5 separate regions of the Homo sapiens genome follow, and regions 2, 3, 4 and 5 are each linked to region 1. The links come from fine-mapping of genetic effects on gene expression. A gene starts in region 1. Each other region holds a variant in brackets. All regions are shown on one strand. Distances are between the middles of the regions. Region 1 holds the start of TRIP4 (thyroid hormone receptor interactor 4). Region 2 overlaps LOC124903507 (a long non-coding RNA gene). Region 3 overlaps ZNF609 (zinc finger protein 609). Region 4 overlaps SNX1 (sorting nexin 1). Region 5 has its middle 23 kb from the start of RBPMS2.

Evidence for each region. PIP is the estimated chance that this variant, and not a neighbour inherited with it, causes the effect. A credible set is the group of variants that fine-mapping cannot tell apart.
Region 2: its variant is the best candidate, but not a certain one, in a credible set for the expression of TRIP4 in prefrontal cortex (BrainSeq, PIP 0.86).
Region 3: its variant is the best candidate, but not a certain one, in a credible set for the expression of TRIP4 in monocytes after Pam3CSK4 (Quach 2016, PIP 0.59).
Region 4: its variant is the best candidate, but not a certain one, in a credible set for the expression of TRIP4 in whole blood (TOPMed, PIP 0.63).
Region 5: its variant is the best candidate, but not a certain one, in a credible set for the expression of TRIP4 in lymphoblastoid cells after a statin (CAP, PIP 0.65).

The regions. Positions count from the first base shown.
Region 1 is chr15:64,385,410-64,390,512 of GRCh38, reverse strand. It overlaps TRIP4 (thyroid hormone receptor interactor 4), which reads right to left and starts at 2,677. Exons shown (of 13, transcript NM_016213.5): 1 at 2,549-2,677. The coding sequence starts at 2,649. It also overlaps a transcript of PCLAF not described here. RefSeq lists enhancers at 1,961-2,461, 2,391-2,880, 2,462-2,962.
Region 2 is chr15:64,717,762-64,722,864 of GRCh38, reverse strand. LOC124903507 (a long non-coding RNA gene) reads right to left here. Exons shown (of 3, transcript XR_007064679.1): 3 at 2,296-4,799. Among named protein-coding and RNA genes, the nearest start is that of OAZ2, 17 kb to the right of the region's middle. RefSeq lists an enhancer at 4,298-4,798. The variant C/AC (reference allele first, on the strand shown) is at 2,248.
Region 3 is chr15:64,589,714-64,594,816 of GRCh38, reverse strand. All of the region lies in intron 2 of ZNF609 (zinc finger protein 609), which reads right to left. All of the region lies in intron 4 of LOC101930091 (a long non-coding RNA gene), which reads left to right. It also overlaps the pseudogene RPS26P50. Among named protein-coding and RNA genes, the nearest start is that of OAZ2, 110 kb to the left of the region's middle. The variant TTA/A (reference allele first, on the strand shown) is at 2,060.
Region 4 is chr15:64,138,492-64,143,594 of GRCh38, reverse strand. SNX1 (sorting nexin 1) reads right to left here. Exons shown (of 15, transcript NM_003099.5): 15 at 1-5,103. Among named protein-coding and RNA genes, the nearest start is that of SNX22, 11 kb to the left of the region's middle. The variant C/T (reference allele first, on the strand shown) is at 2,981.
Region 5 is chr15:64,796,220-64,801,322 of GRCh38, reverse strand. No RefSeq gene overlaps it. Among named protein-coding and RNA genes, the nearest start is that of RBPMS2, 23 kb to the right of the region's middle. RefSeq lists an enhancer at 1,159-2,061. The variant G/AAG (reference allele first, on the strand shown) is at 2,915.

The DNA of each region.
Region 1 (5,103 bases):
TTGTTAATTTATCAAAAATAGCCTCAATCTTTCTTTTTTCCTTTTTTTTTTTGAGACGAGGTCTCACTCTGTCACCCAGGATGGAGTGCAGTGGTGCGGTATCAGCTCACTGCAACCTCTGCCCCGCGGTTCAAGGGATTCTCCTGCCTCAGCCTTCCGAGTAACTGAGATGACCTGCACGCTCCACCACACCCGACTAAGTTTTGTATTTTTAGTAGAGTGGGGGTTTCGCCATGTTGGCCAGGCTGGTCTGAAATTCCTGACCTCAAATGATCCATCTGCCTCGGCCTCCCAAAGTGCTTAGATTACACACATGAACCACTGCGCCTGGCCACCTCAATCTTTTTTTTTTAATACTGTATTTAATATAATACACATATTTAATATATTTAATATAATATTTGATATATTTAATATTTAATATATTTAATATAATATTTGATATATTTAATATTTAATATATTTGATATTTAATATATTACACATATTTACAATAAATATGTGAAAATTGGGCCAGGCGTGGTGGCTCATGCCTGTAATCCCAGCACTTTGGGAGGCTGAGGCGGTTGGATCATCTGAGGTCAGGAGTTCGAGACCACCCTGGTCAACATGGTGAAACCCCATCTCTAGTAAGAATACAAAAATTAGCCAGGCATGGTGGTGCGCGCCTGTAATCCCAGCTGCTCGGGCTGAGGAAAGAGAATCGCTTGAACGTGGGAGGCGGAGGTTGCAGCGAGCTGAGATCGCACCACTGCACTCCAGCCTGGGCAACAGAATCTGTCTCAAAAAAAAAAAAAAAAAAAAGTGAAAATTTTGAACTTATATTCGTAAAAAACACTTTTCTGTTTTATATATTGCAAAGTTTCATTATTTCATTTGATAGCATTCCACTGCTTTAAAAAATGTTTGAAAACTACTAAATACTTAATCTGACTGCGTTCAAGCAAGGGTAAAGCCAAACCATAAGATTTCGCTGTTTTGTTTTGTTGTCTATTCTAGTGTTAAAAAAAATCCTTTATCTTGTTGTTTACTTTTTTTATTTCTGTAGAGACAGGGTCTCACTATGTTGCCCAGGGTGGTCTCCAACTCCCAGTCTCAAGCAATCCTCCCACCTCTACCTCCCAAAGTGCTGGGAATAAGGGCTTGAGCCATCTCCTAGGGCCTCAAAAAAATCCATTAAAATAACCTACTTGAACTGTCTCCTTGCCAAAAGTCTATTTTCTCCGAAACTCAGAAACTCATCTTACTTCCTACAAAAGCCCTAGAACAGCAATTTAGGTTTCAACATCAGTGACCAAGGAATCAAATGAAGGAACACTTTCAGTTCTTCGATCAAGTCCCATTTTTGTAGTTTTCTCCCCTGCCTGAACACTTTGGACCGCCACCTCTGTCTATTCCTTAGTTCTCGGGTGAAAGTTATCCTTTCCAATAAACCTTCCGAGTTTTTCAAATCTTAATGAGAATCCTTTATTTTGTGCTCCAACAAGCCCCTTCATTTCCCCAACCTCAGCACTCATCAACGAAGGGGAACCCAACTGTCTTGTCTTTGTTACCCCAGCACCTGGCGTGTAACAGCAGCGCAACAAATGTTCTTCAATCAGTTGAAAGTAGATATTAAGTCATGTACACCATCTCCATTTCATAGGAGTCATAAAGCATGATAAGCTCTACTAATGATTAATCTTATAAATGAAGAAACCAGGGTACAGAGAGAAAAATTAAGTTGTCCTGGGTTCTAAAACAGGTAAACGACAACAGAATATAGAACCTGAGACTCCAGAGTCAGAAGCTATTTGTACTCTACCACGCTGCTTCCACTTAAATTCTAGGTCCTATTGACACAGCTGACCCTGTTGGCTCTACTGACACAACTCAGATTGGGCCGACTAAAATGTTCAGAGTATATCTGGGTGCGGTGGCTCATGCCTGTAATCCCAGCACTTTGGGAGGTCGAGGCGGGCGGATCACTTGAGATCAGGAGCTGGAGACTAGCCTGGCCAACATGGTGAAACACTGACTCTACTAAAAATTTTTAAAAATTAGCCGGGTGTGGTGGTGCGTGCCTGTAATCCCAGCTACTTGGGAGGCTCAGGCAGGTGAATCACCTGAACCCGGAAGGCGGAGGTTGCAGTGAGCCAAGATCGCGCCACCGCACGCCAGCCTGGGCGACAGAGACTCCGTCTCAATAATAACAACAATAATAATAAATAAATAAAAGAGTAAGGGGTTCAAAGTTAGGAAATACAGTTTGACCTGCCCCTTCTCTCTAGAAAGGAAACTGGCTCCTGGGACAGCCTTGCATTTCTAATTATTACAGATTGGGCGTCTTCCCAGGAAAAAAGCCCGACCGGCAGACTGTGGAGCCGGACACCCTATTCCAGAAACTAAACTACAAAGGTGGAGGCCAAAATTCGACGCCTACAGACTACAGACTGCAGCCCCTTTATCACATTTCTCTCTTAACTTTTCAGTCCTCCCCGCTTCCCGGTTCGCTCAGGCAGTGCACATCCCAGAGCTCCTTCCCCGCTTGGACCCGAACTGTTCTCACTGAATGATCTCCTCGCTGACATCCAGGCCGAAAGTCTTCCGCAACTGCTGGGTGCACCAGTGCACCAGCGGCTCCCCGGACACCGCCCCAGCCACCGCCATCTTCCCCAGCCGGAACCAGCTGAGCTGCAAAAGCCCCACGTCCTGCACCGGACTAGTTCCCTTCGCAACACCAACCTCTCTCACGCGGGTTCCGCCAGCTTGCACCGCCCCGCAAGGTCGCACCGCCTCCAGTGCAGATCCCGCCCATCTGTGCGCCTCCTGCTTCTTCCTGCTTTGTTGTCTACTTCCTTGTGCCCTCCGGAGTCGAGCTCTGTCAGTGCATGATTCTTGCCAATCGCTAAACGTAGGACTCGAGGAAGGCCATTGGCAATTCTGCTAAGAAGACAGTGCAAGTGCCTATAAAAACGACAGTTTAGGGGGAAAACAAACCAATACCCGGAAAGCTGAGAGGCCAGCTTTTTAATCGTCATGGTTTTATGTAAAATAAAACAGCACGTGGAAGGTATTGTAAGCGCTGTAAGTTTTTGCTCTGGTGGTGGTTTTAATTTTTTAATTAATTAATTAATTTATTTATTTATTTTGAGACGGAGTCTCGCACTGTCGCCCAGGCTTGAGTGCAGTGGCATGATCTCGGCTCACTGCAAGCTCCGCCTCCCGGGTTCATGCCATTCTCCTGCCTCAGCCTCCCAAGTAGCTGGGACTACAGGCACCCGCCACCACGCCCGGCTAATTTTTTTTGTATTTTTAGTAGCGACGCGGTTTCACGTGTTAACCGGGATGGAGTGTTTATTTTTAATACCCCCTGTAGTCGACTACTAGATTCACACCGCTAAAACTTCTATTTTATTTTTTGAGCCATGTATTTTCCAGGAGAGCCAAGACAACTCAGCAAGCTCGAGGGTAAAAAACAGTAAAACAGGAGTTGGAATTTGGCTTTGAGGACTTTCCACATGAGTTCTCAACCAAAAATGACAGTATTTAAGGGCTGTCTGCAATTCCCTACCCCGCTAAGACAATGGGCTGGGGAAAATTTAGCCAAACTTTTCTGGAGATCATAATGTCTTCCCATTCATTTCTGGCTTTTTGTTGCATTTGCAGGTTAAAAGTTCTTCATTTCTACTAGCCTGTTTAGACTAAGTGGTCACATTAAATTGGCAGCTGTTTTACCTTTTTGCTAGTGTTTTCATTGGCATAAATATTATAATTAAAATCATGAGTGTATTGGCCGGGCGCAGTGTCTCATGCCTGTAATCCCAGCGCTTTGGGAGGCCGAGGCGGGAGGATCACCCGAGCGCACACGGAGACACACACACAAACACACACACACACACACACACACACACTGGGCGTGGTGGCTCATGCCTGTAATGCCAGCACTTTGGGAATCAGAGGCAAGAGGATCACTTGAGCCCAGGAGTTCCGGACCAGTCTGGGCAGCATAAGGAGAATCCTCATCTCTACAAAAATGAAAAAAATTAGCCTGGCATGGTGGCACATGCCTGTAGTCTCAGCTACTTGAAAGGCTGAGGTGGGAGGATCACTTGGGCCTGGAAGGTCAAGCTTGAAGTGAGCCCTGATTGCACTACTGCACTCCAGCCTGGGCGACAGAGCAAGGCCTTTTTACAAAAACAAAACAAAACCTCATAAGTGTATTGATTTACATTCCATTTAGATTGTCGTAGATATCATTAATTTGGAAAGCAGATGATTTTCCAGGGTTTTTTTTTTTAAGAAAAAGTCAAAATACTCTGTGAATGTTTATTAATTGTGGGTACAAGTTTTGTTTCTTTGTAAAACTCCACTACATTTAATAATAATTGTAAGGTATCAAAGTCATTTACCTGTTTATTTATTCAGTCCCTGTGTTAGGGTTCTCCAGAGACAGAACCAATAGGATAGATAACAGATAGATATAGATACAGATCTATGAGGAGATTTATTAGGGAATTGGCTCAGGAAATTATGGAGACTGAAAAGACCCATGACAGGCCATCTGCAAGCAGGAGACCCTGGAATGCTGGTAGCTGGCTCAGTCCAAGTTGTGAAATCTTCAAGTCTCAAGGTGGAGGGCCTGGAGTTCTGATGTCTGGGAGCAGAAGTCTGAGAAGAGTGTCTCAGCTCCAGAAGGAAGAAATATTTTTTCTCACCTTTTTTGTTCTGGGTCCTTGGTTAATTGGATGGTGCCCGCTCACATTGAGAGCAGATCTGCCCCACTCAGTCCACTGACTCACATGCCAGTCTCCTTTGGAAATACCCTCAAAGGCACCCAGAAGCAATGCTTTACAAGTTATCTAGGTATTTCTTTTTCTTTTTCTTTTTTTTTTCTTTTTCTTTTTTTGAGATGGAGTTTCCTCTTGTTGCCCAGGCTGGAGTGCAATAGTGCAATCTTGGCTCACCACAACCTCCGCCTCCCGGGTTCAAGCGATTTTCCTGCCTTAGCTTCCCGAGTAGCTGGGATTACAGGCATGTGCCACCATGCGCGGCTAATTTTGTATTTGTAGTAGAGATGGGGTTTCTCCATGTTGGTCAGGCTGGTCTCAAACTCCCGACTTT
Region 2 (5,103 bases), 330 kb before region 1:
TCTCTGCTCAAAATTCAAAAATTAGCTGGGCGTGGTGGCAGGCACCTATAATCCCAGCTACTGGGGAGGCTGAGGCTGGAGAATCGCTTGAACCCGGGAGGCGGAGATTGCTGTAAGCTGAGATTGTGCCATTGCACTCCAGCCTGGGCTGGGCAACACAGCAAGACTGCATCTCAAAAAAAAAAAAAAAAAAAAAAAAGGGATAAAGTACATATTGTATTAGGAAAGCATTATGTGAGAGAAGTAAAAAGAAAATACAAGTTCAAGGAGAAAAAGGAGTGATGTAAAATTTCCTGTGCTAAAGAACAGCTTACTTTTTCTTTTTTTCTTTCTTTCTTTTTTTTTTTTTTTTGAGAGGGAGTCTCACTCTGTCGCCCAGGCTAGAGTGCAGTGGCATGATCTTGGCTCACTGCAACTTCCGACACCTGGGTTCAAGCGATTCTCTTGCCTCAGCCTCCCAAGCAGCTGGGATTACATGCACACGCCACCACGCCTGGCTATTTTTTGTATTTTTAGTAGAGACAGGGTTTCACCATGTTGGCCAGGCTGGTCTCAAACTCCTGACCTCAAGTGATCCGCCCGCCTCTGCCTCTCAAAGCGCTGGGATTACAGGCGTGAGCCACTGCACCTGGCCTCTTTTTCTTTCTTTTTTTTGAGACAGAGTCTCACTCTGTCACCCAGGCTGGAGTGCACTGGGTTGATCTCAACTCACTGCAATCTCTGCCTCCGAGGTTCAAGCAATTCTAATGCCTCAGCCTCCTGAGTTGTTGGGATTACAGGTACGCATCACCATGCCCGGCTAATTTTTGTACTTTTAGTAGAGATGGGGTTTTGCTTTGTTGGCCAGGCTGGACTCAAACTCCTGGCCTCAAGCAATCTGCCCACTGCCTCGGCCTCCCATAGTGCTGGGATTACAGGCATGAGTCACTGTGTCCAGCTTCAATATTTCTAATACAAAAAAAAATTGCAAAGAAATCACATCCTTCGAAACTGTTTTTATATTTTTTTGTAGAGACAGGGTCTCAGTCTATCACTCAGGCTGGAATGCAGTGGTATGATCATTATTCACTGTAACCTTGAGCACCTGGCCTCAAGCAATCCTCCCACCATAGCCTCCCAAAGTGCTTGGATTACAGATATGTCCCACTGTGCCCAGCCTTTTGCAACTATTTAAACATGGTTAAAATTTTTTTTAAATCAAATTTTAAAATTTCCCCTTTTTTTTTTTTTTTGAGACAGAGTTTTGCTCTTGTCTCCCAGGTTGGAGTGCAATGGTGTGATCCCTACTCACTGCAACCTCCGCCTCCTGGGTTCAAGCGATTCTTTGGCCTCACCCTCCCGAGTAGCTGGGATTACAGGCACCTGCCACCACGCCCGGCTAATTTTTGTATTTATAGTAGAGACGGGGTTTCACCATGTTGTCCAGGCTGGTCTTGAACTCCTGACCTCAGGTGATCCACCCACCTCGGCCTCCCAAAGTGCTGGGATTACAGGCGTGAGCCACCATGCCCAGCCTAAAAACTTCACTTTTAAAACAAGCTTTATTGAAGGGGTACATAATTTTTAAAAATGTTTAGGGTATGCATGAGCTAAATTATTGAAAGACTACAGTCTTGAGAGATGAGCTAGAGGTTGCTTGACAAAGGAGGAGGAGAAAGACGTTCTTTGTAGGAGAAAGAGGGTTCTGTGAGTGGACTTGTTCATGGAAGGGAGTAATCTGAGATAAACTGGAAATGTATCCATCCTGGGCAACAGAGAGATACCCTATCTCTACAAAAAATACAAAAAGTAGCTGGGCATGGTGGCATGTACCTGTAGTCCCAGCTACTCAGGAGGCTAAGGCAGGGTGTATCACCTGAGCCCAGGAGGTGGAGGTTGCAGTGAGCTGAGATCACGCTATTGCACTCCAGCCTGGGCACTGGAGTGAGACCATGTCTTAAAAAAAAAAAAAAAAAAGGCCAGGCGTGGTGGCTCACGCCTGTAATCCCAGCACTTTGGGAGGCCGAGGCAGGTGGATCACGAGGTCAGGAGATCGAGACCATCCTGCCTAACACAGTGAAACCCTGTCTCTACTAAAAATACAAAAAAAAAAAAAAAAAAAAAAAATTAGCTGGGCGTGGTGGCAGGTGCCTGTAGTCCCAGCTACTCAGGAGGCTGAGGCAGGAGAATGGTGTGAACTCGGGAGGCGGAGCTTGCAGCCTGGGTGACAAGAGTGAGACTCCGTCTCAAAAAAAAAAAAAAAAAAAA[C/AC]CTGGAAATGTAAGTTGGGGTCAGACTCACAGGAACTAGGCTGAGGCATTTCTGTTTATTATTAATTTTAATTACGCAAGTTTTGCATGATTACAATCTCCTTGTAAAAAACTGAAGCTTTATGAATAGGCCTGGGACTGTCACTTCCATTTCTGGTCTCCAGAGGTGACCTTGGTTTTCAGTTGATGCAAGTTCATCTGGCACATGCTGCAGGTCTCTCTGTGACAGAATGTCCGAGCTAAGGAGTTTTAGCTTCTTCACAGGGTCATTGGCAACCAGGGGCTGGGGTGGAGCTGAGAATTTCTACAGGACTTATTACTCCTTTGTGTTTTGCAACTGGGGTTGCTCACTTAGATAATAAGAGTTGTGATTTGGGAGTGAGGGAAGGAGTTGGGGGTAATTTTGGCGCAAGGCCTGTGACACTGTATTGTCAGCAGCTGTCATTAAGCACTGTGCCACTGGAAGGTAGAAGGGAGGGTGCAGAAAAGCTGATGGGAGGACATGAAATCCCATCTTTATTTGCTTATAGATAGGCCTGGCTGGGGTAGAAATGTGCTCGCTACAAACAGTGGCCCTCTTAGTTTCTTTCGTGTCCCCACTTTTTTTTTTTTTTTTTTTTAGTAGAGATGGGGTTTCTCCATGTTGCCCAGTTTGGTCTTAAACTCCTGGGCTCAAGTGATCCACCTGCCTCGGCCTCCCGAAGTGCTGGGATTACAGGCGTGAGCCACCACACCTGGCCATATCCCCACTTTTGAATGAGACGAGGGTACAGAAAACAGTGTAATAACCATTCAAGTGTGATGAGCAACAGCAACTCATACTCGGCCTCACTGCTGGAGACAATACAGAGTGGTGTGGACAGTGGCAAAATGGACAGTCCAAGGTCTTTCTAAAGGGTGGTCATTATTCAGCCCCATCAGCTGTGGTCCTGGGGCCATATGCATCAATGTTAGCCATATCGTCTGATTTTTCAAGAGACTGTAGAAATTGGGATTTTTTTTTTTTTTTTTTTTTTGAGACGGAGTTTCGCTCTGTCGCCCAGGCTGGAGTGCAGTGGTGTGATCTCAGCTCACGGCAACCTCCGCCCCCCAGGTTCAAGCGATTCTCCTGCCTCAGCCCCCCAAGCAGCTGGGTAGCTGGGACTGCAGGCATGGACCACCACACCTGGCTAATTCTTGTATTTTTAGTAGAGACGGGGTTTTGTCATGTTGGCCAGGCTGGTCTTGAACTCCTGACCTCAGGTGATCCACCTGCCTCGGCCTCCCAAAGTACTGGGATTATAGGCCTGAGCCACCTCACCCAGCCTCGGCTCAAACATTTCTTAAATGCTGTGTTGGCCAAATAAGCCATGTGCCTGCGGGCTGCATTTGGCCTATGGGCTGTTAGTTTGTGTTCTCTGTTTCAGAGTTTCTTGTCTTTGTATATCATCCCCGGCATGCCACTGGCTCTACGATCTACGTGGCTGTGGAGGATCCTGGCCTTCTTAGGTAGATGCTGTGAGAATGGCTGACTTCACTCCCCATGTCTAGTTTGCACCCATATTCTGATATCCAGTTAGTAATAGAGCTCTGCCAAGAAGCTGAGGGCTTAGCAGAAGGTTCCAGAAGCATCCCAGGGAAGTCAGTCAATCTAGATTCATTAGACGCCAAGACCCCTCCAGGGATTTGGTCCTGAGGCCTTCAGAGTCTTTCTCTCAGGCGTCAGGGCGGGTTCTTGTGCCTCTCCCAGGACAGAGCCCAGTGGGAACACAGGTTGGTGACTGTTTCTCAAAGGGCTTTGTCCTGTGACTGAAGCCAAGCAAGGGAGTCAGACACATGAAAACACACACACACACACACACACACACACACACACACACACACACCATCCCCCATACTTCCCAGACCTTTTCCCACGCAGTCCCAGGGCGGCCAGAAGGGCAGCTGGTCGTGGGAATGAACCGCAGCCTCCTCCCCCACTGGCAGCTCCACCCCGCTCCATCTACTCCTGGCCGTGCTGTCCCACCCCCAACCCCCTTATTACTTCCAGAGAAGGAAGTAGCAGAACAATGTGGCACATCAGAGAATGGGCACAGAGCCCAGAGCCCCGTGCCCAGGATGGGTCCCCAGCAGGCCGTGGGCTCTGATCCCTGGCTGCCCCGCTCCTGCTCAGGCGGCTTCCCCAAGGTGGCTTCCTAGACCTTCTCTCCATCTCTGGAAGCTCGGCATGGCGGCCACTCTTCTGCCTTTCCGAGGTTGGCCTCTTCCCCGTTGTGCGGTAGCCAGCGTGTGACCTACTTCCTTCCGTCCTTCCTCACCCACACTCCCCACACTCCATTTGGATAGAGTTCCCAGTCTGAGGGGCTGAAGCCAGGCTTTGATGGGGATTTTGGCCAGCGGGAGCAGGTGGGAAGAAAGGGTGATATTTTCTGAAGTTTTTCTCCAGAGGTCAGGCAAGGCAAGTTGTGAGAACAGAGATGGGGTTGGCTCAAGGGCGCCAGGGCCCCGAGGTCTCATTCTTGCTTCTGGATGGGGCTGTCTCTGCCTTGGCAGACGAGTGGAAATGCTCACAGGCTAGAGGAACAGAAAAAAAAATCACTAGTCATGCCCAGCTTCCTGGAGCTGGGAAGTTGGTGGGAACCATTACTTTTGTTTTTCCTGTTGGTCTAAAATAATGTTTTGCCTGGGACCGGAACCCTACGCCCCAGGCAGGACTACCCCTCACTCACTTCCAGCTCTAGTGCTTTCAACTGCTTCACCTTCCGCCAGGCGCTTCCTGCCCTGTGAGCCAAGGGGCAGGGCTCCTCACAAGTCTTTTGCTGCCTCTAGAAGCCAGTTCCTCCCTCCGCCCCCAACCATGATCCTGACTCAAGGGTTG
Region 3 (5,103 bases), 200 kb before region 1:
CTGACCTCATGATCCACCCGCCTTGGCCTCCCAAAGTGCTGGGATTACAGGCGTGAGCCACCGCGCCCGGCCGAGACACATTCTTTTCTAATCACACTAACAAAAATCCTTACGTTCATTCTGATTGGACCAGCTTCTGGAGTTTAAAATCAATGGCCCTCAAAATCTTTACATTTTGTGACCAGGTGCAGTGGCTCATGCCTGTAATCCCAGCACTTTGGGAGGCTGAGGCAGGCAGACTGCTTGAGCTCAGGAGTTAGAGACCAGGCTGGGCAACATGGTGAAACCCGGTCTTTACCAACAATACAAAAAAAAAATTAGCCAGATGTGGTGTTAAGAGCCTGTAGTCCCAGCTACTGAGGTGGCTGAGGTGAGAGGATCACCTGAGCTCAGGAGGTGGAGGTTGCAGTGAGCTGAGATCACACCACTGCACTCCAGCCTGGGTGACAGAGTGAGACCCCGTGTCAAAAAAAAAAAAAAATTTTGAGCATTCTCCAAGTCTTCGCCTTTTCTGGTTTTAATTTAAAACAAACAAACAAAAAAAACAAAACAAAACATAGTGCATATGTAGTTTTTGTCTGCCCAGAATCCCTCTTTTCTGCAGAAAACTGCCTTACTCCCACTCCACGTGTTCCTAGTAAGATAACAATCACAGTGCCCTTTCAGCTACCTGGCTCTGGGAGTGGGTTCAGTATCAACCTATTCTTTCAGTTCTTCTAAAGTAAACTGCTGATGGAATATTTCTTTAGTCTTTCAAGAGGGCAGAGCCATGCTTCTTCCTTAATATGTGTGTTCATGACATAAAACCCTTCAAACCTCTCCTAATCTTAAAAGTATTAAATGTTTACATCTTCCTCAAACATAATACTTGATTGACAGTCAAGGAGTTCCAACACAAAACTATTAATATGGCGAGACAGCAAACACCAACCCTTCTTATCCACTCAATTATACTATGAAATGAGTTATGGTTGAATCATCAGAATGTTCTGGAATGGCTGGGTACAGTGGCTTACACCTGTAATCCCAGCACTGTAGGCAGGTGGATCACTTGAGTCTAGGAGTTTGAGACCAGCCTGGGCAACATGGTGAAACCCTGTACCTACAAAAAATATATAAAACATTAGCCAGGTATGGTGGCACGCACCAGTAGTCCCAGCTACTGGGGAAGCTGAGGTGGGAGGATTACGTGAGTCTGGGAGGCGGAGGTTGCAGTGAGCTGTGATTGCACCACTGCACTCCAGCCTGGGCGAGAGAACAAGACCCTGTCTCAAAAACAAACAAGAGAACATTCTGGATGACTTATTTCTCCTAGAACAACTAGATTTTTCAGACTATGAAAGGTTATCAGAATTTCACTGCATCGTGAACATTTTTGTGTCAATTAGCTATAACTTAAAACATTATTTTTATTTATTTATTTAAGTACAATTTCCATTTTATTTTTCTCCAGAGAATAGCCTGTCTTCAGTCTTTAAGAACTCACCTCCTTACATGGGCTTTGGTGGGGGACGTGGGGCAGCACCCGCAGGTCTAAATCGGGGTGGGGGTGTTCGGTCCTTGCGGGCTTCACGAGATCGATTCCTGACTACTTTGCTGTGAATTGCACAACTCACACAGTAATGCAGCTTCACATACAGCTTGGGAAGCACATAGGCATCGAAGACGCTCGCTTCAGAAATGTCCCTGACTGCTGCGGACTCCACTATGTTTCGAATGACGAATTTCTTAATGGCCTTGTCTTTGGGCACGCATCGGGCACAGTTAGTGCAGCGAATAGGCTGCATGTGGCCGCGGCCCTTTTTGGCACGACCATTGTTCCTTCTTTTCTTTGTCATCTTGGAGGCACGGACCGGAGAGAGCAAAAACATTATTTTTATTTTATTTATTTATGTAATTTTTTGAGACAAGAGTCTTGCTCTGTTGCCCAGGCTGGGGTGCAGTGGCGCGATCCCAGCTCACTGCAACTTTTGCCTCCTAGATTCAAGCAATTCTCCTGCCTCAGCCTCCCAAGCAGCTGGTATTTCAGATGCCGGGCTAATTTTTTTTTTTTTTTTTT[TTA/A]AGTAGAAATGGGGTTTCATCATGTTGGCCAGTCTGGTCTTGAACTCCTGACCACAGGTGATCTGCCTGCTTTGGCCTCCCAGAATGCTGGGATTGCGGGCCTCGTGAACCACCATGCCTGGCCAACTTAAAACATAATTTTAAATGCTTGAACAGAATTATTACCATTATTATTTTTTTGAGACAGTCTCACTCTGTCATGCAGGCTGGGGTGTAGTGGCGAGATCCCAGCTCACTGCAGCCTCCACCTTCTGGGTTGAAGCAATTCTCGTGCCTTAGCCTCTCAAGTAGCTAGGATTACAGGCACCTGCCACCAGAGCTGGCTAAATTTTCATATTTTTAGTAGAGATGGGGTTTCACCAAGTTGGCCAGACTGGTCTCAAATTCCTGGCCCCAAGTGATCCAACTGCCTTGGCCTCCCAAAGTGCTGGGATTATAGGCGTGAGCCACCATGCCCAGCTGAATAGAATTATTTTGAACAAACCAACCACGATTCATTTAACCAATTAACTATAGATGGATATTTAGGTTGTCCTAATTTTCACTTGTATAAACAAGGCTGAGAGAAATATCTTTTTTTTTTTTTTCTTTGAGGCAGGGTCTTCCCTCTGCTGACAGGCTGGAGTGCAGTGATGTAATCATGGCTCACTACAGCCTTGACCCCCAGAGCTCCAGTGATCCAGTGATCTATCTCAGTCTGCCAAGTAGCTGAGACCACAGGCACATTCCACCAGCTGATTAAAAAAAGGCCGGGTGTGGTGGCTGACACTCGCAATCCCAGCACTTTGGGAGGCCAAGGCGGGCGGATCACCTGAGGTCAGTTTGAGACCAGCCTGGCCAACATGGTGAAACCCCATCTCTACTGAAAATAGAAAAATTAGCTGGGCGTGGTGGTGTGTGCCGGTCGTCCCAGCTACTTGGGAGGCTGAGGCAAGAGAATCACTTGAACCCGGTGCACGGTAGGTCGAGATCGTGCCACTGCACTCCAGCCTAGTGACAGACCAAGACTCTGTCTCAAAAAAAAAAAAAAATTATTTTTAGTAGAGATAGGACCTCACCATGTTGCCTAGGCTGTTCTCAATCTCATGGGCTCAAGCGATCTACCCACCTCAGCCTCCCAAAGTGCTGGGATTATAGGCATGAGCCACCATGCCTGGCTGAGAGAAATATCTTTGCACCTGTTTCACTAGTTTCATAGGGTGAAGTCCTACATATAAGCAAGTAAAAGGGTATGCACATTTTGAGGCTTTTTTTAAAACATTTTTTATAGAGACAGGGTCTCGCTTTGTTGAGGAGGCTGTTTTTGTTTGTTTGTTTGTTTGTTTTTTGAGATAGAGTCTGTCTCTGTCGCCCAGGCTGGAGTGCAGTGGCGCGATCTTGGCTCACTGCAACCTCTGTCTCCTGGGTTCAAGCGATTCTCCTGCCTCAGCCTCCTGAGTAGCTGGGACTACAGGTGCATGCCACCACACTCAGCTAATTTTTGTATTTTTAGTAGATACGGGGTTTCACCATGTTGGCCAGGATGGTCTCGATCTCTTGACCTCATGATCCGCCAGCCTTGGTCTCCCAAAATGCTGGGATTGCAGGCGTGAGCCACTGCACTTGGCCTCGGAGGCTGGTCTTGAACTCCTGGGCTCAAGCAATCCTCCCAAGCTCAGCCTCCCAAAGTGCTGGGATTACATGCATAAACGAGCATGCCCGGCCTTTAAGGCTTTTCGATACATACTACTCAACCAACTTCCAGGCTTTCTGGAACTTAAAGAAAACTCTATGGTATTGCCTACATTTCCAGGGTAGTTTATTTACTCTTCTCAGGACCTTTTTAAGGTATTATCAGAAATGTACAAAGTTTTCTACTTTTGAACCTATTTGTCTTTATCTTCAAGGGATAACATTTTGTGTTTGTTTTTAATGCCAACAAACACAAAATGGTTATGGTTAGTATAACCATTACCTTGTAAACTGACATTGAAAGCTACTGCTCTTATCTTAAGGAGGTCTATATTGATTTCTGGATTCCTTTCCTGGGTTACATGACTACTCTAAACCCAGATACATATATATATACATATATATATATGCATGTATATGTGTGTGTGTGTTATGTGTATGTAAAATAAATATATATTTTCTATATATGAAGGCCAGGTGGCTCACGTGGGCAATTCCAGCACTTTGGGAGGCCAAGGTGGATGGATCATCTGAGGCCAGGAGTTCAAGACCAGCCTGGCTAACATGGCAAAACCCCAACTCTACTAACACAAAAATTAGCTGGGTGTGGTGGCACACACCTTTAATCCCAGCTACTCAGGAAGCTGAGGCAGTAGAATCACTTGAAACCAGGAAGCAGAGGTTGCAGTGAGCTGATATCATGCCACTGCACTCTAGCCTGGGTAACAGAGCAAGAACCCCTCTCTCAAAATAAAGAGCAAAAGAGAGAGAGAGATCAATTTATCCCATACGCTCTCTCCCCTACTAATATGTATGACCTTATATTTATTCATAGATAATATTAAAATAGTTCCGACCCAAAAACTTCAATACTGAGCACAATTTAAATCCTTCTTAAACCAGGACAATAAAAGGCTAGATTTCCTAGTATACAGGTTGGGAGTTCAGATTTCTAATCAGCAAGTAGTTGGCAGCCAGGAAAGATTTAAGTTCATAAATGAGGACCATGTGCAGTGTGTTTTTTTCTTACCTTCTCCATCCAGCCCAAATTCAGCTCTTCAACTTTCTAGCAAACTTGAATAATGTTTTAGCTTTAATCACAACAAGTATGATCAACCATACCACATCTAATTTTTTACCAGTATCCATTAGTCTCAATTTTCACTATCGCTTATCTGTGAATACTATCAAGAGCTTTCCAAAAGCATCGAGTTTTTCCTGCCAAATCTCTATAATCTCTTTAACTGTCTGGGTCTGTTTACAGTATGTAAAAATTTTTAGCCATTTAATTTATAATTTTAATCTTATAGAAAAATCTCACAAAAAAGTATATTCCTGAGAAGCTCCACAGATGTGGACTACTTTAGGAAG
Region 4 (5,103 bases), 250 kb after region 1:
TGCAATCAGTTTCCATGAGGTGTCGGCGCTGTTGGGAAGGACTGGGAGATAAAGAGGGAAAGGTGAGCTGGGTCCTTTCACAGACAGTATGAACGCCAGGTGGCAGAGCCTGCAACTGGGGAACAATCATTCAACAGTTATCTATTTGACACCTGTTTTGAGCCTGAACCTTTGCTGGGGCCCATGGAGTTATAAAGGCGTAAGACCCCAGAGTTTAGCATTTGGTGGAGACTGTAAATCACCCAACTTTATCACAAGATGCAGTTATCGGCAGGTGACACATGCACCAGAAGACAGGCTTCAGTTGTTCTTGTCCATTTATCTCAGATCAGGCACGACCCTGTCCAAACATGGAGCAGAGAATCTTAGCCAGTGTCTCCAAAGACAGAGTGTACATCCAGGCATGTGCGCACTGTAGCACAGATGTGTCCTCCTATGTTTGGAGCCAGGGATCCCCATTATCTTCTCCCGCCCTCCCCTTCCCCCTAGGCTGCCAAGTACTGGTGGGGAAAATCCCACCACCTTGGGGCTTGATGTCCTTGAAGTCTATGGGCTTCCCGTGGGCCCTGAGTGTGCTCGGCAAAAGACACGCCCTCCATCACCACACACTCTCCAGCCACATCTTGGCCCCATCCTGAGATTTCCAGGAGTTCCTCCCCTTTTTTAAAACTTGAGTTGCTTCAAAGACTTTTTAGGGTTCCTAGCTACAGGAGCATTCAGAATGAAAATCTTCTGGGAAGAGTTAACAGTTGCTGGTATTTTTGTGTAGGCGACAATTCTTATTCCCGTTTCTCTCATTTATTTTGTCACTGAGTACTGACACTGAATACTGGGATCACACCAGCTCGAAGTCCAGTCCTCATCTTCAGCACTCCGGAGCCCAAACGCTGAACTAGCCAAGGGGAAAGCAGGTTCCATACCTTTTATCTAAAAAAACTTGGCTTAAATAGGTAAATATGACATTCCTATCTCAGAAAATTTTAATTATCAAGCATGAAACTTCCCCTCTTCGGCCTCCCCTCCACCTACAGATTCTTTCCTGTGGCCTCAGCAGTGAGGCACCCTCTGAACACAGGTCCCCTTCCTGTGCTCTGGACCCCATTTTCTTCCAAACATGGCTCTGATAGTCATTCTCTTTCTCTTCTCTGAATTTTATTAACATGCTTAAGTTTGTCCCACCTTTAAATAAAACAAAGCCTCCTTTAACTCTATCTCCCCTACTTAAAGCAACTGGCCTCCCTTCCCATCCAGAGCTGCTTTTTTTTTTGAGACAAGATCTTGCTCTGTCACCTAGGCTGGAGTGCAGTGGCGCAACTGTAGCTCACTGCAACCTCAACCTCCTGGGCTCAGGTGATGTTCCCGCGTAGCTGGGCCTACAGGCATGCACCACCACACACCCAGCTAGTTGTTTTTATTTTTGTAGGGACAGGGTCTCACTATATTCCCCAGGCTGGTCTCAAATTCTTGGGCTCAAGTGATTCTCCCACCTCGGCCTCCCAAAATGCTAGGAATACAGGCATAAGCCACTGTGCCTGGCCCAGAGCCGCTTCTTAAAACACCTTCAGCACTCACTGCCCCCACCACTGCTTCCCCTCCCATCTGCCCCAAACCTATTGCCTCATGTGTTACAAAGGGTTTCATTGTCTGCCCAGTGTCTGGGCCAGAAGCTTGCGGGGCATCCTAGCTACCTCCCTCTCCCCTCAAGCCTCTCATCAAATCAAGGACCGATCTCAGTGGTTCCGAAACTCTCCTGAGCTCTGGCCCCACCATACCTGCCCTTTTCAGCTCTCCTGAGGGTAGGGATAAGCCTGGCTGCTCTTCCTGCCTCCAGTCTCACGCCTTCTGGTGTGTCCAGATCACGAAGCGACAATGGTAATGTGGAAAGCGCCTCCCAGGTCCTATCAGACACCCATGTGATGTGGCTCCTGCTCGTTTTTCTCCATGGGCCTCACTGACTTTACCCTACACCAAGCCACTTGACATTTCCCTAGATGCGCCTACCTCACCCTGCCAGACAGACAGGGAGGCAGAAGCAACAAACACTTTTACACCTTTTAGACTCAGTTCAAGCATCAGGTTCTCCACAAAGTCCTCCCTCCTGGGTCCCCAGCTGGAATACCACCTTCTTCCTTTGTGCTCCTGTTATTCCTTGTAGAGGCTTCTGGCTCAGTACCCCTAACCCACTACTGGCCTACTTGATTTCCACACGTGCAAGCTCTTTACAAAAATGCACAAGCCCTAAAGACAACTGGCCCCGCCAGCCTCAGGATACAGGAAGCAGAGGAGGAAGTTCTGAAACCAGAGGAGACATCATTCCAAGGAAATAAGAAAAACAGACTTACGTCAGAATGATCATTAGATGGAACTTAACAAAGCAACCTGAAATCTTTGTCTCTCTGGAGGAAAGAGTTAACAACATGGAAAAGGGGGCAGACTGGAATAAACCTACAGGGCTGGTCTCAAAGCATCAGTGTGAATTCATGATTTTTAGTATCTATTTATGTCAGGTATCTCTAACCTATCTTGTTTCTACAAATCAATCAATCTATCTATCTATCTATATCTATCATCTATCTATCTATCTATCTATCTATCTATCTATCTATCTATCATCTCTTTGCACTGTATGGTGAGAGCCTAGAGGCAATGACATTCCAGTAACAAGCAGCACATTTGGCACCCAGATCTTGGTTTCTAAATAACATTCTCTGGCTGGGTATGGTGGCTCACACCTGTAATCCCAGCACTTTGGGAGGTTGAGGTGGGCAGATCACCTGAGGTCAGGAGTTCGAGACCAGCCTCCCCAACATGGTAAAACCCCCATTTCTACCAAAAATGCAAAAATTAGCTGGGTGTGGGGGCAGGCACCTGTAATCCCAGCTACTTGGAAGGCTGAGGCAGGAGAATTGCTTGAACCTGGTAGGTGGAGGTTGCAGTGAGCTGAGATTGTGCCATTGCAATCCAGCCTGGGCGACAAGAG[C/T]GAGACTCTGTCTCAAAAATAGTAATAATAATCAAATCAAATAAAAATAAATAAATACCATTCTCCATTATAAGGAACCAAGACTCCCTGGAGAAATGGCTGATTCCAGGGCTAGGGTAGGGAACATTCAAGATGAGCCTGGAACATCTTGTTATGCCAGAAGGTAAGAAAGTACTCAAAACATGATGGGAGCAAGCTACAAACACACAAGAGGCCGCTATAAATCTGGGACAATTTGAGAATCAAGATAAAATCAAAGCAATGGCTTGCAACTCTGAGTAAAACAGGAATCCCTGCATCCATATTGATAAACAAGTGAATAAATAAATGGTGAGAAAGGATGTTTTTCTTTGTATGTAGAATGTCAACCAATAAATGTAGAAGGCATTATGGAGTTAGGAAATCATGTTGGTCAATCATGACAGTAATAACTGGGACAAGACTAATCAACTGATACTATATAACTGGTGAATGAGGAACAAAATACTTATATAGTCTCAAAGTATCTCCCCACAAATTACTTGTAAATTACAAAGAGGAAATCGTAAATTTAAAATGAAATCTGGCAGACACCAACCTAAGCGGTGAACAGAGTTAACAACATTAATGGGACCAACTGACATTATATGCTGATTACGACGCACTGACGACACACTGCTTCTGTGATATTCCCACCCAGAATGCAAAACCCTCACCTAGTCATGCGGAACCATCACACAAATCCAAACTGAGGAACATTCGACAAAATAGCCTGTATTCTTCAAAAATGTCATGGTAATGAAAGACAAAAGAAAGTTGAGGAATCTGCAGTATTGAGAGACACACGTTTACAAATGTAACATGATCCTGCACAAGGTAAAAGAATGGCTACAAAGGACATTATTGGGATAAATGGCAAAATTTAAATATGAATCATGGGTTAGATAACAGTATTAAATCACTGTTAAACTTCCTGATTTTGATAATAATACTTAAAAAAATACTGAATAATGCTTAAAGTAATTCTCTTCTTCTCTTAGAAGAGAATGTCCTGTTCTTAGGGAAATGCATACTGTTTTGGGCATAATGGGGTATCTGTGCAAATTATTCTCAAATGATTAAGAAAATGCAACATGAAATATAGATAAGGCAAATGGGATAAAATGTAAACACTCAGTAAATCTGGATAAAAGATATATAGGAGTTCTTTGTGATATTCCTGCAACTTTTCTGTAAATCTGAAATTGTATTCAAAATTTTAAAGTTACCAATAAAACAAAACAAACAACCCCTGACCAAGAATCCAACAACAAGGGATGAATCAAAATTATGGTACAGTCACCCTATGGATGCCTTCAAATTACACAGCTTTACAGATCAACTTTGTGAAGATATATAACAATATAGTAAAATGCTTATAACATGTACAATGTTGAATGATAAAAGCAGGATACAAAATACTTTATGTGTATATTATTACAACTATGTAAAAGCAAGCATATAATAAAGACTGGAAGGATAAAACCAAAGTTGATGGTAAGGATACTGAGGGGTAGGGAGAGTGACTTTTTCCAAAAACTTCACCTGTTAAAAAGAAATACTTGCACCACTGGCCCTTCCCCTGGTGCTGCATCTGTGTACAGGGAATCAGAATGTTTACTGCGTTTTCTTGTCTCAGGTTGCCTCGCCCCAAACCTTAGCCCCCCACCAAAGAGAACTGATACAGCAGGACCTGGGGCCCCAGTGGCAGGAGCGTCTTTGGGATGGAGGGGCTGGAGGTGGCAAGGCTCCCATAGTGGCAGTCAGCAGCTCGAGCTCACAAAGGAGCTTCAAAGCCCACTCTGACCAGTATAGCTTGAGCAGCTGTGGACACAGCTAAGGGGGAAGCCCATCCTTGACTGACGAGACTCTGGCCTCCCCTGGCTAGACCGGCAGAGATCTGTGTGAACACCCTTTGGCTGTGTGTGCAACTCCTGAGGGCTCTTGCTGGCAGGCTACCTCCTGGGCACAGACAGTAGAGCTTCTTTGAACCTCCTAAGGTTCAGGAGCTCTTGGATCACCCTATCTAGAGGCAGAGGGCATGGCTTTCATGTCTATGGAGACAAAGCATCAAGTCATTATCAGACCTTCACACCTTCACACAG
Region 5 (5,103 bases), 410 kb before region 1:
AGAATGGCATGAACCCGGTAGGCGGAGTTTGCAGTGAGCAGAGATCGCCACTGCACTCCAGCCTGGGCGACACAGCGAGACTCCGTCTCAAAAAAAAAAAAAAAAGTAAAAAAAAAAGTCTGGCTCTATTCTAGTAGAAGAAGCTGTAAAATAAAGCAGAAATGTGATGGGAAATTAAAAAGAGAGTGATTCACTTTACATAGAGTAGTCAGAGAAGGCCCCTTTGAGCTGAGGGAGGAAAGTAGAGCTAGAAAGACCATTCTAGACAAAGGAAAAATTGTGCAAAGACCCCAAGGCAGGAAAATTTGGAGTGTTTGGAGAGTTGTAAGACAAATGGAAGGTGGGCACACACTAAGCTCTTCCTCAATAAATGCCAGCTAAAGAAATTAATAAATGATTGTAAGGATTTCTGCTTCTAGACAAGATGATTTACATTCCCACCTAAAAACAACTAAAATACTCCCCAAAGTATGTGAAACATGGTTCTCAAGACATTGAAACCCATAAGATGAAAAATAGTGATTCCAGAGAGTCAGCAAACAAATGAGGAAAACCCTACAAATGCCCCACCTTGCTGCCTAAAGAAAATTTCCAGGGCCGGGCACCGTGACTCACACTTGTAATCCCAGCACTTTCAGAGGCCAAGGTGGAAGGATCATTTGAGACCAGCCTGGGCAGCATAGTGAGACCCTGTCTCTGCAAAAACAAATGTAAAACAGGCAGGCATGTGCCTGTTTTACAATGTAAATGTAAACAAATGTAAAACAGGTGGCAAGTGCCTGAAGTCCCAGCTATTTAGGAGGCTGAGGCAGGAGGATCACTTGAGCCCAGGAGGTCAAGGCTACAGTGAGCTATGATAATGCCACTGCACTCCAGCCTGGTAACAGAGCAAGGCCCTGTCTCCAAAACATTATATTAATAATATAATTTGGCCGGGCATGGTGGCTCACACCTGTGATCCCAGCACTTTGGGAGGCCAAGGCAGGCAAATCACCTTAGTTTAGGAGTTTGAGACCAGCCTGGCCAACATGGAGAAACCCCGTCTTTACTAAAAATACAAAAATTAGCCAGGTTTGGTGGCAGGCCCCTATAATCCCATGTACTTAGGAGGCTGAGGCAGGAGAATCGCTTGAACCTGGGAGGCAGAAGTTGCAGTGAGCTGAGACCCACGCCATTGCACTCCATCCAGGGCAACAAGAGCGGAACTCCGTCTCAAAAAAAAAAATGTACCTCTCCCTCTCCCCCTCCCCCTCCCCCTCTCCCTACGGTCTCCCTCTCCCTCTCTTTCCACGGTCTCCCTCTGATGCCGAGCCGAAGCTGGACTGTACTGCTGCCATCTCGGCTCACTGCAACCTCCCTGCCTGATTCTCCTGCCTCAGCCTGCCGAGTGCCTGCGATTGCAGGCGCGCGCCGCCACGCCTGACTGGTTTTCGTATTTTTTTGGTGGAGACGTGGTTTCGCTGTGTTGGCCAGGCTGGTCTCCAGCTCCTAACCGCGAGTGATCCGCCAGCCTCAGCCTCCGGAGGTGCCGGGATTGCAGACGGTGTCTGGTTCACTCAGTGCTCAATGGTGCCCAGGCTGAAGTGCAGTGGCGTGATCTCGGCTTGCTACAACCTCCACCTCCCAGCCGCCTGCCTTGGCCTCCCAAAGTGCCCAGAGTGCAGCCTCTGCCCGGCCGCCACCCCGTCTAGGAAGTGAGGAGCGTCTCTGCCTGGCCGCCCATCGTCTGGGATGTGAGGAGCCCCTCTGCCTGGCTGCCCAGTCTGGAAAGTGAGGAGCGTCTCTGCTGGGCCGCCATCCCATCTAGGAAGTGAGGAGCGCCTCTTCCCGGCCGCCATCCCATCTAGGAAGTGAGGAGCGTCTCTGCCCGGCCACCCATCGTCTGAGATGTGGGGAGCGCCTTTGCCCCGCCGCCCCGTCTGGGATGTGAGGAGCGCCTCTGCCCGGCCGCGACCCCGTCTGGGAGGTGAGGAGCGTCTCTGCCCAGCCACCCCGTCTGAGAAGGGAGGAGACCCTCCGCCTGGCAGCCGCCCCATCTGAGAAGTGAGGAGCCCCTCCGCCCGGCAGCCGCCCCATCTGAGAATTGAGGAGCCCCTCCGCCCGGCAGCCACCCCGTCTGGGAAGTGAGGAGCGTCTCCGCCCGGCAGCCGCCCCGTCCGGGAGGGAGGTGGGGGTCAGCCCCCGCCAGGCCAGCCACCCCGTCCAGGAGGGAGGTGGGGATCAGCCCCCCGCCCGGCCAGCCGCCCCGTCCGGGAGGGAGGTGGGGAGGTCAGCCCCCCACCCGGCCAGCCACGCCGTCCGGGAGGTGAGGGGCTCCTCTGCCCGGCCGCCCCTACTGGGAAGTGAGGAGCCCCTCTGCCCGGCCACCACCCCGTCTGGGAGGTGTGCCCAACAGCTCATTGAGAACGGGCCATGATGACAATGGTGGTTTTGTGGAATAGAAAGCGGGGAAAGGTGGGGAAAAGATTGAGAAATCGGATGGTTGCCGTGTCTGTGTGGAAAGGAGTAGACATGGGAGACTTTTCATTTTGTTCTGTACTAAGAAAAAGTCTTCTGCCTTGGGATCCTGTTGATCTGTGACCTTACCCCCCAACCCTGTGCTCTCTGAAACATGTGCTGTGTCCACTCAGGGTTAAATGGATTAAGGGCAGTGCAAGATGTGCTTTGTTAAACAGATGCTTGAGGGCAGCATGCTCTAAGAGTCATCACCACTCCCTAATCTCAAGTACCCAGGGACACAAACACTGCGGAAGGCCTCAGGGTCCTCTGCCTAGGAAAACCAGAGACCTTTGTTCACTTGTTTATCTGCTGACCTTCCCTCCACTATTGTCCTATGACCCTGCCAAATCCCCCTCTGTGAGAAACACCCAAGAATGATCAATAAAAAAAAAAAAAAGTAAAAAAAAAAAAAAAA[G/AAG]TATATATAAAAAAAGAATCAGCCGGGCGCGGTTGCTCATGCCTGTAATCCCAGCACTTTGGGAGACCAAGGCAAGCAGATCACAGGGTCAGGAGTTCGAGACCAGCCTGGCCAATATGGTGAAACCCCATCTCTACTAAAAATACAAAAATTAGCTGGGCGTGGTGGTGTGTGCCTGTAGTCTCAGCTACTCAGGAGGCTGAGGCAGAAGAATCGCTTGAACTTGGGAGGCAGAGGTTGCTGTGAGCTGAGATTGCGCCACTGCACTCCAGCCTGGGCAACAGAGTGAGACTTCGTCTGAAAACAAACAAACAAACAAACAAAATCTCCATTGGATAGGAGAGTATTACAAGAAATTAAAAAGAAAAAATTTTAAATAAAGAAAGAAAAGAAAAAAAATCCAGTACCTAACAAAGTAAAATTGGCAGTGTCTGACATCCAACAGAAATTAGCATGTATACAAAGAGACAGGAAAACATGACCCCTAAGAAAAATAAAAACCAATCAATTTAAATCTACTCAAGGTGAAGCATGGTGGCCCATGCCTGTAATCCAGCACTTTGGGACTTGAGGTCAGGAGTTCGAGACCAGCTTGGCCAACATTATGAAATCCCATCTCTACTAAAAATACAAAAAAATTAGCAGAACATGGTGACCCACCTGTAATCTCAGCTACTAGGGAGGCTGAGGCAGGAGAATCTCTTGTACCTGGGAGGTGGAGGTTACAGTGAACTAAGATTGTGCCATTGCACTCCAGCCTGGGCAACAGAGCTAGACTCCATCTCAAAGAAAACTATAGACTAATATCTCTTATCAATATGGATGCAAAAATCCTCAGCAAAATACCAGGAAAGTGGCCAGGTTGAGTGGCTCACACCTGTAATCCCAGTGCTTTGGGAGGCTGAGGCTGGAGGATTGCTTGAGCCCAGGGGTTCAAGACCAGCCTGGGCAACAGATCTTGTGTCTAGAAAAAAAAAATTTTTTTTAATTAGTTGGGCATGGCGGCCACACTTGTAGTCCCAGCTACTTGGGAGGCTGAGGCAGGAAGGATCGCTTGAGCCCAGGAGTTCAAAGCTGCAGTCAGCTATGATTGCACCACTGCACTTCAGCCTGAACAACAGAGTGAGACCCTGTCTCAGACAACAACAAAACACTAGCAAACCAATTCCAGCAACATATACAAAAAATTATACCATGACCAAGTGGAATTTATTCCAGAAATGCATGGTTGGTTTAACATCCAAATATCAATCAATGTAATATATTTTACTAATAGAATAAGAAAACATGATTATCTCAAAAGACATAAAGAAAGCATTTGACAAAATACAAAACCCATTCATGATTAAAAAAAACAAAACACGAAAAAATACTTGGTTGGGCTCGGTGGCTCACACCCGTAATCTCAGCACTTTGTGAGGCTGAGGCGGGTGGATCGCTTGAGCCCAGAAGTTTGAGACCAACCTCGGCAACAGAAAGGGACCCCATCTCTATTAAAAAAGAAAAGAGGGCGGGGCCTGGTGGCTCACACCTGTAATCCCAGCACTTTGGGAGGCCGAGGCAGGCAAATCACAAGGTCAGGAGTTTGAGACTAGCCTAGCCAATACGGTGAAACGCGCTTGCTGCTGAACATATTAAACAATCGGCTGGGTGTGGTGGCGCGCACCTGTAGTCCCAGCTACTCAGGAGGCTGACGCAGGAGAATCGCTTGAACCCAAGAGGTGGAGGTTGCATGAACCAAGATTTTGCCACTGCACTCCAGCGTGGGTGACAGAGTGAGACTTCATCTCAAAAAAAAAAAAAAAAAAGGCCCAGTGCAGTGGCTCACACCTGTAATCCCAGCATTTTGGGAAGCCGAGGTATGTGGATTACGAGGTCAGGAGTTCAAGACTGGCCTGACCAAGATGGTGAAACCCCATCTCTACTAAAACGACAAAAATTAGCCAGGCTGAATGGCAAGCACCTGTAATCACAGCTACTCGGGAGGCTGAGGCAGGAGAATCGCTTGAACCCAGGCGGCAGAGGTTGCAGTGAATTGAGATTGCACCACTGCACTCCAGCCTGGATGACAGAGTGAGACTCCGTCTCAAAAGAAAAGAAAAGAAAAGAAGGGCCAGGTGTGGTGGCTTATGCCTGTCATCCCAGCACTTTGGGAGTCCAAGGTGGGTGGATCACCTGAGGTTGGGAGT